2 linked regions of the Homo sapiens genome follow. Each later gene encodes a partner of the first gene's protein in a complex. Each region holds a gene or a part of one and is shown on either strand. Other genes may lie near its edges. The genes, in order: MAP2K1 and KSR1.

The links.
Region 2: the proteins of MAP2K1 (region 1) and KSR1 are in contact, whole or in part, in a crystal structure (PDB 9AXH), measured with the Homo sapiens proteins. Residues at the interface, in NP_002746.1 of Homo sapiens: Asp217, Ala220, Asn221, Ser222, Phe223, Val224, Gly225, Thr226, Arg227, Ser228, Met230, Arg234, Leu235, Gln236, Gly237, Met308, Ala309, Ile310, Phe311, Leu314, Asp315, Val318, Asn319; in XP_011523731.1 of Homo sapiens: Asn767, Gln768, Leu769, Lys770, Leu771, Ser772, His773, Leu776, Val784, Arg785, Met787, Thr788, Pro789, Asn823, Gln824, Ala825, Ala826, Glu827, Ala828, Ser829, Ile830, Trp831, Gln832, Gly834, Ser835.

Annotation. Positions count from the first base shown.
Region 1 is NC_000015.10:66,389,912-66,396,911, forward strand, and holds part of MAP2K1 (dual specificity mitogen-activated protein kinase kinase 1), read left to right. Parts: intron 1-7,000. UniProt on the Homo sapiens protein: Dual specificity protein kinase which acts as an essential component of the MAP kinase signal transduction pathway.
Region 2 is NC_000017.11:27,620,149-27,627,155, forward strand, and holds the end of KSR1 (kinase suppressor of Ras 1), read left to right. Parts: intron 1-1,044; coding exon 1,045-1,125; intron 1,126-1,780; coding exon of another isoform or gene 1,781-1,787; exon of another isoform or gene 1,788-3,165; coding exon 3,166-3,244; 3' UTR 3,245-6,287; downstream 6,288-7,007.

The sequences.
Region 1 (7,000 bases):
TTTTTTTCATCTGCAAAAATGGGGCTAATGATAGAACCTACTTAGCATAGTTGTGAAGATTAAATGAGGTAGTACATAGTAAACTTCCAAAGCTGTTGGCTGCTGGTGCCTTTGTTACTGCCTAAGTGTTGGACCAAAGGAAACTGGAAGGTGATTTTCATTCATGGTGGTAGATTATGTGTTAAGGTGCCTTTGCTTCTGGACAATCAACTCTCCCTAGTTTGGTTTTTTGTACCATCTGCATCTACCTCTATGACTCATTGCTGTGTTACAATAGGAGGCATCTTTGTGTAGGCTGCCCAAGACAAACAGGGACTGTTTCCCTGTGTTTCATAGCACTAATGAGAGGGAAAGCTGTACACATCTTCATCTTTCACTTCTGAGAGTGTTCCTCAAGCAAAATGTTCCCTATCTTGGGCTACCAGCAGAAAGAATTCTGTTGCTTTCATGATTTCTGTGATTAGACCAGGGCACAATTTTGAACGTTATCAGACAATGTGAACTAAAGAGGAAGAAAATCCATTTTGACAGTAAAGAACTCTTGGTACCAAATTGGCAAGGTTGCTTTTCCCTTGGCACCTGTGCTTACCTCTAACATAGCCCTTACCCAGTTCAGAGATGGAGTTGGGTAATACGGGACCTGAAGTTGATGCAAGTTGTAGGGGTCCTCAAAGAAAAATCATGCAAAAATAGCTTTCTTTTGTGTATTTTGCAGAAACATGTGAGCATATTACTAGGGTCTTAAGTGTTAGAATGAGATAATGAGATAATATTGTTCCTCTGTTTAAAATGTTCTTCTGGTTCTATTGCAGTTACACAAAATCCAAACTCCTTATATTGGACTATGAGACTGAGTGATCTGCCTGTTGTCCCCACCACCCCCTCCCACCAATCTCTTTAACCACATTTCCTGCCACTCCTTTCTTCCACCACACTAGTCCTCTTTCACTTCCTCTATGGGATGGTCTATACGCACTGCAGGCCTCTGTACATGCTGTTCCCTTTGCCTGGAATGAATCACTCCTCCTTCCCTAGGTAGGCAGGAAGCAGTCTTCACCTATTTGCCTAAATGTCACTTCCTCTGAGATGTTTATAAGCATCTCAGAGGAATGTGGTCCCTCTTTGTCATGTCACCTGAGCTGCTGCTTTTTTTTTTTTTTTTGGTATGGGGGTCTTGGTATGTTGCCCAGGCTGGTTCTTGAACTCCTGGACTCCAGTGATTCTACCACCTCAGCCTCTTGAGTAGCTGGGACTATAGGTGGGTACTACTGTGCCTGGCGCTCACCTGAGCTTTTAATAAGACTTAATCATTGTAATTTTTCATTGGGGTGTTCTTAATATTTATCTCTCCTGTACACTATAAACTTTAAGCACAGCACTGCCTTTTTGTTTTTTGAGACGGAGTCTCGCTCTATCGCCCAGGCTGGAATGCAGTGGCACTACCTCGGCTCACTGCAAGCTCCGCCTCCCAGGTTCATGCCATTCTCCTGCCTCAGCCTCCCAAGTAGCTGGGACTACAGGCGCCCACCACTGCGTCCAGCTAATTTTTTGTATTTTTAGTAGAGATGGGGTTTCACCATGTTAGCCAGGATGGTCTCGATCTCCTGATCTCGTGATCCCAAAGTGCTGGGATTACAGGCGTGAGCCACTGTGCCCAGCCTGCACTGCCTTTTTTTGACTCACCACTCTGTAAGTACACCCAAAATAGTTCTGGCACATAATAGGTCCATAGATGTTTGTTGAGTCAGTGAGTGAATGAAATTTCTAATATTTGCACAACGGGTTTAATAAACCTTTTTATGTCTTTTCCTTTTCTTTTCCCCTTTATGCTCATTCCTTTTTTCCCCATTTTCTTTTGTTTTAGTCACCCACTCAACCATTCTAAGATATTTATATGGTTTTATAATTCCACCTGTTAGTCTGGTTATGTGTATACCCTTGGGAAGTAGAAGGATGGTTTTGTATGTATCTGCTTAGGATTCTAAAATGTTATTGTGCTACAAATCTGCATTTCATAGACAGGATAGAATAGGTTATGTTGAGGTAACAACCACAAAATCTCAGTAATTTAACACACTTTCAGGTCAGTGGGAGGCTCTGTAGATTGGAGTCCTTTAGGGATCCAGGCTGATCGAGGCATCGTCTCTCAAGTATACCTACATGAGGAGGGAATCTTGTGAAGAGCTACATTCAGGCTCTTAAAGTTTTGCCTAGAGGTGAGCCTTGTCATTTTTGCTGCCATTTCTTTGGCCAGAGCAAATCATGTGGCCATGTTGACCTTCAAGGAGGGCAGTGACCTTTTTGGAAGGGGGAGAACCACGAATATTTGTGTGTTTTTTTTGGGTTTTTTTTTTTTTTTTTTTTTTTTAAGAAAGGGTTTCGCTCCCACTGCCCAGGCTGGAGTATAATGGTGCGTGCCACCACGCCCTGCTAAGTTTTGATTGTTTTGTAGAGATGGGGTTTCACCATGTTGCTCAGGCTGGTCTTGAACTCTTGGGCTCAAGCGATCTGCCCACCTCATCTTCCCAAAGTGCTGAAATTATAGGTATGAGCCACTGTGCTGGTGCACCAGGAGTATTTGAACAGAAGCAATGACCATCCCTAAATTTTATATCAGTTTCTTCTTTGTTTTCTTTTCTTTTCTTTTTTTTTTTTTTTTGAGATGGAGTTTTGCTCTTGTTGCCCAGGCTGGAGTGCAATGGCATGATCTCGGCTCACCGCAACCTCCGCCCCCCAGGTTCAAGCTATTCTCCTGCCTCAGCCTCCTGAGTAGCTGGGATTACAGGCATGTGCCACCGTGCCTGGCTAATTTTGTATTTTTAGTAGAGACAGGGTTTCACCATGTTGGTCAGGCTGGTCTCGAACTCCTGACCTCAGATGATCCGCCTGCCTCAGCCTCCCAAAGTGTTGGGCTTACAGGCGTGAGCCACCATGCCTGGCCTTAGTTTCTTTTTTTAACCAATTTTGTTTTGAGCTCTATTCATGATGCTATACAATATGTGTCTAGTTCATTATTTCTCTTGGTTGTAGAGCAGTCATGTTTGCCTGCCACATTTTACTTATTTATTTCTCTAGAATTAGACATCTTTGTTGTTTCCCAACCCCTTGCTGCCTCAAACAGTCATGACCATGCCCATCCTTGCACATCCTTGTCTCCTTTGGATGTTGTGAGAGAGTTTCCTGTGGAATGTACTCAGAAGTGGAATTGCTGGGTCTTAGGGTACATTGTCTCTCCTTCCAGGATAAGGCATGTTATCTCTTTCTCTCTCTCTTTTTTTTTTTTTGAGACCGAGTCTCACTCTGTTGCCCAGGCTGGAGTGCAGTGTTGCAATCCTGGCTCACTGCAACCCCTCCCCACAAGGTTCAAGCAATTCTCCTGCCTTAGCCTCCTGAGTAGCTGGGATTACAGGTGCCTGACACCATGCCCAGCTAATTTTTATATTTTTAGTAGAGACAGGGTTTCATTATATTGCTCAGGCTGGTCTCCAAGTCCTGACCTTGTGATCTGCCCTCCTTGGCCTCCCAAAGTGCTGGGATTACAGGTGTGAACCACCGCACCGGCTATTAATCTCTTTCTTTAAAACAATACCGTTAATCCAGTTGCAGTAGTGAGGCAGGGTACCTCTCAAGATCTCACTTTTTCTTTGACCTTGGGCAAGTCCTTTCTACTTTCTGACTCTTGGTTTCCTTAATCTGTAAAGTGGAGGTGATAATTGTTTACAAAATCTTTACCATGGTGGCCTACAAGGCCCTACCTGACCAGGTCCTTAGTTTTCTTCCAGTGTTCTCTTCACTCATGCACTCTAGCCACACTGTCCTTTGTGCTGTTGGGTTGTAGGTTGGGCACATTCTTATCTTAGAATCTTTGCATTTGCCATTCCTGCTGCCTGGAAAGCTTGTCTCTCAAATACCGTATGACTTGCTTCCTCACTTCCTTCACCCCTCTGTTGAAATGTCTCTTCACAGAGGCCATCTTTGATCACTGTAATACAGAACTCCCTGTCATTTTCTACCCTTTGATTTTGCCTTATTTTTCTTTGTAGCGCTGATCACTAACTGATGTTACATCGTGTATAAGTATTTATCTTCTTCTGCCACCCCAAGTGTAAGCTTCATGATGGTTGGGGCTTTGCCTTGTTCATTGCTCAGTGTGTAGAACAGATTCTGGCACATAGAAAATACTCAGTAGATACCTGTTGATTAAATGATTGACTAGATCCTACCTCAGAGGAATACCTTTGAAGATGTATAAAATTTCTTTGAAGGCTATAAGGTGCCGAATAACCTTAGGAGGGTTCACTGCTTGGCCTTAGTAGCGTTCATGATTTTGGATTTTGAATTGTTTCTATGTAACCCTGAAACACTCAGACTTACTTATTGCATTCAGGGTGTAGTTCATAGCATCAGCAGTTCTGCCAGGTTTGTAAGGAACACACATCTGTTAGAGTGTGAAGGCCCTGGAGGAAGAAAGGTTGAGACAGGTTGATGTGCTTTTTTTTGTCTCTTATGGCTCTTTCTGAGATGTGTACCATGATGATAACCAGGAACTTTTTTTTTTTTTTTTTTTTTGAGAGACAGGGTCTTGCTCAGACACTCAGGCTGGAGTGCATTGGTGCTCACTATAACCTTGAACTCCTGGGTTCAGGGAATCCTCCTGCTTCAGCCTCCTAAGTAGCTAGTACTACCGGCATGTACCACCATGCCTGGCTAATTTTAAAATTTAGAGATAGGGTCTTGCTGTATTGCCCAGGCTGGGCTCAAACTCCTTGCCTCATGCAATCCTCCCTCCTTGGCCTCCCAAAAGTGCTGGGTTTACAGGCATGAGCCACCATGTCTGGCCTGATAAGTAGGAGCTTTTGAAGTGGTTTCACACTGATTTTGTAGTTTTGAACTTGGATGCTTCTTTTGGGTAGTTGATGCAGTAACTAATACTGGTGCTGTCTTTCAGAACAGCTTCATGTGAAAAAGGCCTGCTTAAGCCTGTGTCTTTGGGAAGAACATCTCTGCCGCTGTTACAGCAGATACAGTAATAGCAAAGAAAGTCTTAAAGATGATTTAGCCCATGGCAAGGAAATATATGGGACTCTTGTTTGAATATAAACACTCACAGAATTCCAGTTTCACTTATTTATGCACCTTTCAAAGAAAGGAAGAAGATACTGTGGTAGAGTACAGTAGTCCTCCCTTATCTGAGTGGCATATGTTCCAAGACCCCTAGTGGATGCCTGAAACCACAGATATCAATAGTACCAAACCCTGCATATACTGTGTTTTTTCCTATGCAGTATATGCCTATGATGAAGTTTAATTTATAAATTAGGCATAGTAAGAGATTAACAATAATAACCAATAAAAAAGAATTATAACAATATATTGTAATGACAGTTACATGAATGTGGTTACTGTACTCACTGTGGGTAACTGGAATTGTCAAAGCAAAACTACATTTAAGTGGGTACTCCTGTAGCTGTTGGCCCTGCCTTGCCTATCTAGCTTAATTTTCCTCTGTTTTTCCGTTCACCTGCTGTGGTCCACTTACCACTTTCTTTACTCTCCTCACTGTGCCACCAGCATACTGTTGCTTACCTTCTTACATCTGTCTGGTCTTGCTGACATGGTTTTTTTTTTTGTCTGAAATGCCCTCCTCCACTTTCTTGCATGATTTTTTTTTTTTTTTTTTTGAGACGGAGTCTCACTCTGTCACCCAGGCTAGAGTGTGCAGTCACATGATCTTGGCTCACTGCAACCTCTGCCCACTGGGCTCAAGTGAGTATCGTGCCTCAGCCTCCCGAGTAGCTGGGATTACAGGCGCACACCACCACGCCGGGCTAATTCTTGTTATTTTTAGTAGAGACGGCGTCTCACCATGTTGCCCAGCCTGGTCTCGAACCCCTGACCTCAGGTGATCCACTGCCTCAGCCTCCCAAACTGCTGGGATTACAGGCGCCTGGCCCTCTTGCATGTTTTTATTTTTGTTTTATACTTGCCACTACACTTTAACTTCTGTGAAAACAGGGACTGTGATTGTCTTGTGTACTGGTATTTCTCCACCGTCTGCTGTGGGGCCTAGAATAAAATAAATGGTACCCATCTTTTTTGTTTTGTTTTGTTTTTGGAGATGAGTCTCACTCTGTCCCCAGACTGGAGTGCAGTGGCGCGATCTCGCCTCAGTGCAACCTATGCCTCCCGGGTTCAAGCGATTCTCCTGCCTCAGCCTCCCAAGTAGCTGGGCTACAGGTATGCGCCACCACATCTGGCTAATTTTTGTATTTTTAGTACAAAATTTAAAAATGATGGCCTCGATGTCGTGATCCGCCCTCCTCGGCCTCCCAAAGTGCTGGGATTACAGGTGTGAGTCACCGTGCCCGGCCCTTTTGTTTTTTTGAGATGGAGTTTCACTCTTCTCATCCAGGCTGGAGTGCAGTGGCATGATCTTGGCTCACGGCCACCTCCGCCTCCCACATTTTCCTGCCTCGGCCTCCCAAGTAGCTATGATAACAGGCACACACCACCATGGCCGGCTAATTTTTTTATTTTTAGTAGAGACAGGATTTCACCATGTTGGTCAGGCTGGTCTCGAACTCCTGACCTCAGGTGATATGCCTGCCTCAGCCCCACAAGGTGCTGGGATTACAGGCGTGAGACACCGTATCTGCCCCGGATGGTACCGATCTTTCAAGATCTTACATAAAGCTTATCTCCAATGTGTGTAGTCTTTTCTGAGCAACTCCATGCCATGCTCAGTTACATCACTCCCTACTTAGTTATAATAGTTCTTTTTTCTTTTTTTGAGACAGAGTTTTGCTCTTGTTGCCCAAGCTGGAGTGCAATGGCGTGATCTCGGCTCACTGCAACCTCTGCCTCCTGGGTTCAAGCGATTCTCCTGCCTCAGCCTCCCAAGTAGCTATGATTATAGGCGCACACCACCACTCCCAGCTAATTTTTGTATTTTTAGTAGAGGCAGGGTTTCACCATGTTGGCCAGGCTGGTCTTGAACTCC
Region 2 (7,007 bases), on another chromosome or scaffold:
ACTGTGTGGGGTTAGGGAATACCATGTCTCATGCAATACTGGGTTCAGTATTTTGCTCTTAGGATGGGTCGGAGTCCAGTACAACTGTGGGGTAATGGATCGTAGCCATAGAGGTATACATTTTAGGCAGCCATTGCTGCACACCTGCCGCATGCCTGCACACCTGCCGCATTGCTACACAGATGGCCGAGGCCAGGGTTCCACCAGCAAGGAGATTGCAGTGTCCTAAAGACAAACAGACACACTGTAATGAAACCTGCACACATCAGGACTCTTTCTTGTCACCTTTGTATTCCTGGCTCCTAGTACAGTCCCAGGAACATTATAGTTGGGCACTAAATATTTAATGTGCATGAATGAATGTGAGCAAAGGGTGATACCATGCCAAGTGCTGTGATAAAGCCCAGATGGGGGCCTCTGCATCCACCTGGGGGACAGGAGGAAGAGTCTCTGGAAGAAGGTCGTCAGGGCTGGGTTTTGAGCCAGAACTATCCCAGCAGAGACCAGGAGCATGGGGCTCTTAGCAGTTCAAGGAGGGTGATGTGAGGCAGCGAGGCCAAGCTCTAATCAGACCGTGGGCAACTTGCTTAACAAGCTGGGCCCTGGTTTTCTCCGTGACGAAAGAAAAGGCTCCACTAGGTGGACACTGGCATTCAGAACATCATTCCAGATTCCCCAAAAACCATATAGTCCCACCTTCTCATTTCACAGGCAGGAAACTGAGTCACAGATGGGGCTGTTCCCTGCCCAGCCCCTTCGAGGAAAGCATGCGGGCTTTCCTTTCCTGAATGAGTCTGTGTCAAAGCTTCCTGTTCACAGTGTTTACTTTCTACACGCTTGCCCCCTAATTCTCACTTTCTCTTTTCTTTCCATTGATCTTGTCACTTTTTTATTTTCGGGGGGTGGCGGATGTGCTGTTCTGTCATCTCCCACTTTCCCATCACCTGATTCCTCCACCTGTCCACACGTGCCTGACTCCATCACATGCCGGGGCCGGACTGCGCTCTTCCCACGCCTGGTGGAATGGTCGCTGGGCACTCCCAGTCGCTGGAGGAGCCGCTACTATGGAAAAGGACGCTACGGCCACCCTGACTTTAAGAGCTCCTGTCCGATTCTGGAGGAATAGTGTGTTCCTGTTACTTCCTTCGCTGGCTGCCTGTCTCTGGTTTTCCTGACACAAGCCCTGCTTCCTTTCTGTCGCCGCTTCCCAGCTTCTCCCATCTTTGTGTCATTTATTCTCGCAAACCAAAGTGAGGTTTCTGCAGCTGAAATGGCTTCCAGCAAGGGTCACACAGGCTTGCATTTTTCGCTGGGTGAGAGAAGAGCCACAGCATGTGGCGGGGCCTTTGTCCACACCATGAGTGAATGGGTGGCTTGTCCCTGGGTCGGAGAAAATTCTGGTCATTGATTTGAGCCCCCAGGATCCCAGTCCCCCTGGCCAGAGCTCAAGAGAAGAGAATCCAGTTAAGCAGAAATACTCTTGGAAGTAGATTTTACTCGTCAAGGGCTAAGGAGCTGTGGGCATGTTCCATCCTCTTTATAAACGTGCTGCAACTGTGCCCTGCGGGAGCTTAGAGAGGGTTCTTTGTGCCCAGGATCCCTTCTGAGCATGCAGTGCAGCCAAGCCTGGGGGATGGAGTCCAGGATGGCCCTTTCTCTCTGGAAGAGAAAGGGAGTCCCCTGCCCAGCTGCTCTGGCCAGACCTCTAGCTCCCGACAGGCTCTGCATTGGGGCTATGATTCTGATGCTGTTCTTTGCTTTCTTCTCTTTCCCTCTGTAGGTTGTAGGCCTGGCTGCCTTGCATGCACCAGGGGCTTTCTTCCTCCTAATCAACAACTCAGCACCGTGACTTCTGCTAAAATGCAAAATGAGATGCGGGCACTAACCCAGGGGATGCCACCTCTGCTGCTCCAGTCGTCTCTCTCGAGGCTACTTCTTTTGCTTTGTTTTAAAAACTGGCCCTCTGCCCTCTCCACGTGGCCTGCATATGCCCAAGTAACTGCTCTCAGAGGATCCCACTAACTGAGCTCCCTCCAAGGCAGTCTGGGCAGCTTCTAACTACCTTCCTGGACATGACTGATTGCTCCCGTGTTCTTCTGAGGGCTGGTCTTGTTTTTGTTTGGGTGGCTCTGTCTCACTGCTAACACCTTAGTGAGATGCCTTCCACCCTCCTGAGCACACCAGCCTCCCACTGGGTGTGTGCCTAGTGCGGGGCGGGCGGAGGTTGGGAGGGTGTTGGCTTGGCTTTTAACCTGTGGGGATTTTGTCCAACAAGGAGTGGAATGATTTCAGAGCTGCCCTGAGGCTGGCACCCTGGTCACAGGAACCCTCTGCGCTGGCTCCTGTCTCAGTCCCCTCTGTAGAGTTAGATCAGAAGACACAGAAAGTTCTGTGGCCATGAAAGATACCAGCTTGGAAGGGTTGTGTCTTCAGTGGCACCCTCAGAAAAATTGTCTTAAAGCAAAGAGGTACCTGGCTCCAGACAATTTTTCTGATGAAAACAAAGTCTCTGCCCCGTCCCCACCCTGCCACCCTGGCAAAGTTACTTCCTTTACAGCTGCCCAGTGTACCATAGACCAGACCCCAGGTCAGCATTTGTCAAGAGCATGGCTGCTGAGTCCCCTGTGGCAGTCAATGCACTGTTTACCAAATGCAGGTTTCTGTTCTCCCTCCCCAGCAAGACCTGCTGAACCCAGATCTCTGGAATGGGGCCCTAGGAATTTGCATTTCAACCTGCTTCCCAGGTGGCCCTGATGCACCCCAGTATTAGAGTTTATTGCTAAAAGGAACATGCCCTGTCACTCCTGGTATCCTGGGAGTCATGTTTCTCTTCTCTCTCAGTTCTACTTGGAGCAAGAGCTTTCCTGGGCTGCAAATGAGAAAACAATTCCTAGGAACCCACAGCAGTACTGAGCATGCTGGGAGCTTGGGACTTGGAGATGAATGAGCCACCGTTGCTGCTCCAAGTAGGACTACTTGGAGTGTAGCTGAGGCCTTGGACGCAGTATGACCAGGGGCAGCTCTGCCAGGGCTGTTGGCCAATCAGTCATTTTCATTTCTTGTTGGAGGCCAGGTCCTCTGCTGAACTCATTTCCTAGCTAGTGTTACCCTAATTCTGATGAAGATCAATGGGGCTATAATTCTTGTTTTTGTTCCTCTTTGCAGCATTAACAGCAGCAAAGTTGTACCCCGGTTTGAAAGGTTTGGCTTGGGCGTCCTGGAGTCCAGTAATCCAAAGATGTAGCCAGCCATATGGTTTTTCGCTGCTGATCTCTTTCTTTTTAAAATGTGTTTCTGAAACATCCCAACAACCACCACGACAAAAAAACACTGCCTGCCCAGCGCTGCAAACCAGGAGCACACGTCCTAGATTCAGACTGTTGGCCATAAACCCCACTCGGGAGATGGAGCTGCACCTGCTATTTCTTAAAATGACACCACCAACAACCAAACCTGTCATGACAGACAGCAAATGTTTACACGTATATTTCTCCTGAGTGAACCTGATGTTTTACAATAGGTAATAATAAAAACAGTCTGTGCAGATGCACTGGCACTGACGGCCAGGATGGCGGAAATGGCCATCCCCTCTGAGGACCTTGTAGGCGGTGAGGGACCCATGCTGGGCCAGAAGGAAGACAAACATGGTAATTGCAGCTGTTCTTGGGGTAGGGCGGGGAGCCCAGAAGGTCTGATCTGGCCTCTGCTTTTTGGCCCAAGACTCCATCAGGGAAATCTATCTAGGGCTCTCCCCTTGTCCTTTCAAAGGGATACTGCCCCTTCCTCGTCTTGCAGAGGAAACCCTGGCTAGGAACTGAGCTAGTTTATGGAGTCTGGAATTCCTGGAGAGCTTGGGTTCACCTTCTCACCCCTGTAATCCAGGCTGCTCCTGCTGGAAAAGTAGAAACAGAATCCAAAAAAGGTCTGGACTCACCCGGTGGTTCCCAGCCAGGGTTTCTGCTGCAAGGTGAGGAAACATCCATGGCTTGTACAGATGTGAGTCTTTGATGAAGCCCCCAGGCAGGCACCAAGGTGATGGGACTCAGGGCCTTGGCTTTTAGATACATCCCAGTCCCTGACTGACATCTGACCATGAGGGCTGGATGGGTGGGAACAAGGAGGAGTAGATGGCAAAAGTACCTGAGCCCACTTCCCAGCCACAGGGTGACCCTGGCACTGTAAAAACCCTTTGTCAGTCATGCCAGAAGGTTCTAGAACTGCCCACCTCTTCCATTTCAGTCCTGCTGAAACCCCTTAGCCTATTTCCGACTCCTCTGTCCATGCTCTGAGTTCAGCTGGGCAGTGTGTGGGCTATCACCCCTTTCATTTAGACCTACCTAGCTGGCCCCCATCTGCAGAGCCTTCCTTAGCACCATTAGGCCTTCTACTTGTGTCCATTTGAAGCAGGAGGGGCTGGATTTGGAAAAGTCTTTGAAGTGAGAGCACCACGCTTGTCTTCGTTAGAAACTCTTAACTGCAGAAAAAAGTTCCAGATGGCAAGGGAGCCCTTAAGTGGAGATTAGGTTGCATTAGACTCCAAAACCAGAAAGGAAAAAGGGTGATGGGAGTGGAGACGTGATTGGATTCAGGCCCAGAACCTGTGACCATGCTCTGAGCTCAGACTTGGGGAGGGAGGGGTGTGGCTCCCACCCCTTCCAGTTAAGACCTGCCTAGCAGAGCCCCAGTCTCCAGCCCCTTCCCTAGCACCAGAGTCTGGTCAAAATGCCACAGAAAATGAGCTGCTCTGCCAGCAAGCTGTGGAGCTGCCTCCTCTCCAGGCCTGGCATCCCTTGGTCAGCCCCTCCTGGGAGGGCACAGCCGTATTACAGTGCCAGTGTGCCTGGCCATCAGCATCTTCACCCTTCCCAGTCTGTGTGGGGAGGCTGTAAACCCCGTGGATTCAGCTCCGTGTGGAGTTTCTGTGCTATGGTGGGACTGCTCATTTTGCCCCATCATCCCTTTGGCCTCCCACACACCTGCCCCTTCCCAGGGATCACGTGTGTCTCCAGCCTTTCACCTTTCTATTGCAATGGTGGCCTTTGTCCAGGCAAGAGCAGGCCTGATGGATGTACTGGTGAGCCCCACAGTTGGATGTCAGCTCAGCCGTCCAACTGGGAGGAACAGTAGGCTCAGTTCCTCCCTGACCCCTGACACCAGGCCGCAGTGGGCATGCACAGGCCCACAGAAAGTCAGTCTGGGTTTTGCTTTTCTCGTGAGCATCACAGTTAAAGAAGCGCTCATTGAGCAACTACAGTGCACTTGGTCTTCTGCAAGTGCTGGGCACCTAGAGATAGGAACAGTCATGGTCCCTGCTCTTAAGGAACTGATGACCTGGTGGGGCCCTGTTGTCTTCAAGGAACCCAGAAGCCACTGGGCCCCAAAGGTGGAACTGAAGGACTGGGGGCAGCTGGCTCTCAGCCTGCCACCTCTGCACTGCCTGCCTTTAAAGAACCCCACCCCACCCCATGATGGCCCCCTCTGTTCCCCTTGTATTTCAGTGACTGTGAATTGAGGTTAGGAAGGCACACCTGCCCTTCTGTGTGCTCTCTCCACACGAAGGATGACAGATACTGTGAATTCAGCCCTCACGGCCAACTGTGAAGGGGATGGAGAAGGCTGGGAGGGCTCGGGGAGAGCTCTTAGGGGCTGCGGAAGTCCCCACGGGGGTCTGAGAGTGGAGCCCAAGCTTTGGCCCTCCAGGCATCCCCAGTTTCCAGCCTCACCTCTGAAGCCCTGCTGCCTTTAACCACCAGAGCCGCAGCCCCCTGGGTTTCTGTCTAACTCGAAGTCTTGAATCCTAGCTAGTTTGGGGTTGTGAGCAGTGTGTAGCAAAGTTGATCTCTCCATGTCACCAAATCAAAACACCCTCTGTCATCCTACGGCATTTCCTCTTGAGGTCACAGAGAGGAATGGCAAGCCCTGGAAACCTGTGTTATTCTGTGTTGATTTGGTGTGGGGGGAGGGTGGAGACGTAAATGTGAAGCCAGTTGGAGTTTGTGCTATGCAGCAGTGTTAGCCAGGATCTCATCAGCGTGCAAACCTAGCATCTTCTGTGGCCACAAGCCACACACTTGCTTTTTTTGAATGTGATGTAAAATTTGTACAGTAAAGTTTTTATATTTTCTATCAACTACATTTGTCTTCCAGACATGCTATTAATTTAAATTAAAATGGTTAGTATTAACAAACATGCTGTATCGGGTTTTTTTGCCACTGGCAAGAACATGCCCTCTGTGCTAAGCCAGGCCTGGGTGTCTGGAGTTTGTGAATAAAGTTATACCAAGGTGTTCTGGGGCTTGTCTTTGCTTTGGTCAGTTCCAGCTGAGTCCTGGGGACCATTTGGATGGGTGGCATGGGAATGGATAGGTCTGGGGTGACTGAACCCCTGGTCTATAGATTAAGGAGCTCCTTCCAAAGGAAGAAGTTATGCCAGGACCTCAGTGGCAGGTGTTTCTAAACAGATGGAGGAATGGAGAAGGCACAGCGTCAATGGCCCACAATGCGCAGAGGAAGATCATCCAGGCCCCAGCAGCAACAAAGCCATGAGCAGGCCCAGCATCTCCTGAGCTGGAGATGCCTTAGCCTTATGGAAGCCTTGGAGGGATGAGGTGGTGTTCATCTGAATCCAATATCTAGGAGCCCCTCATTGCCAGTTATATATACAGATAGGTGGAGAAGAGGTACTTTCTAAACACCATCTCACTTTAATCCTCACAAGGCCATGAGGTAAGAATTGTGATGTTTCAGCTGAGGAAAATGAGAAACGGAGAGGTTAAGGTATTCACCCAAGATCACACAGCTGCAGGGTGGCCAATCCAGGACTCAGGCCACAGCTTTCACTCCAGAATCTCTCCAGAAGTCTAGGAATTTGCTGGTCAGACATTTACTGAGCACCTACTATGTTCATAAGACAGTGCTAGGTTGTGGAGCATTTTCCAGGATAGGCCGCGTGGTAGGCCACACATTAAGTCTCAATAGATTTAAACATAACATACAAAGCATCTTCT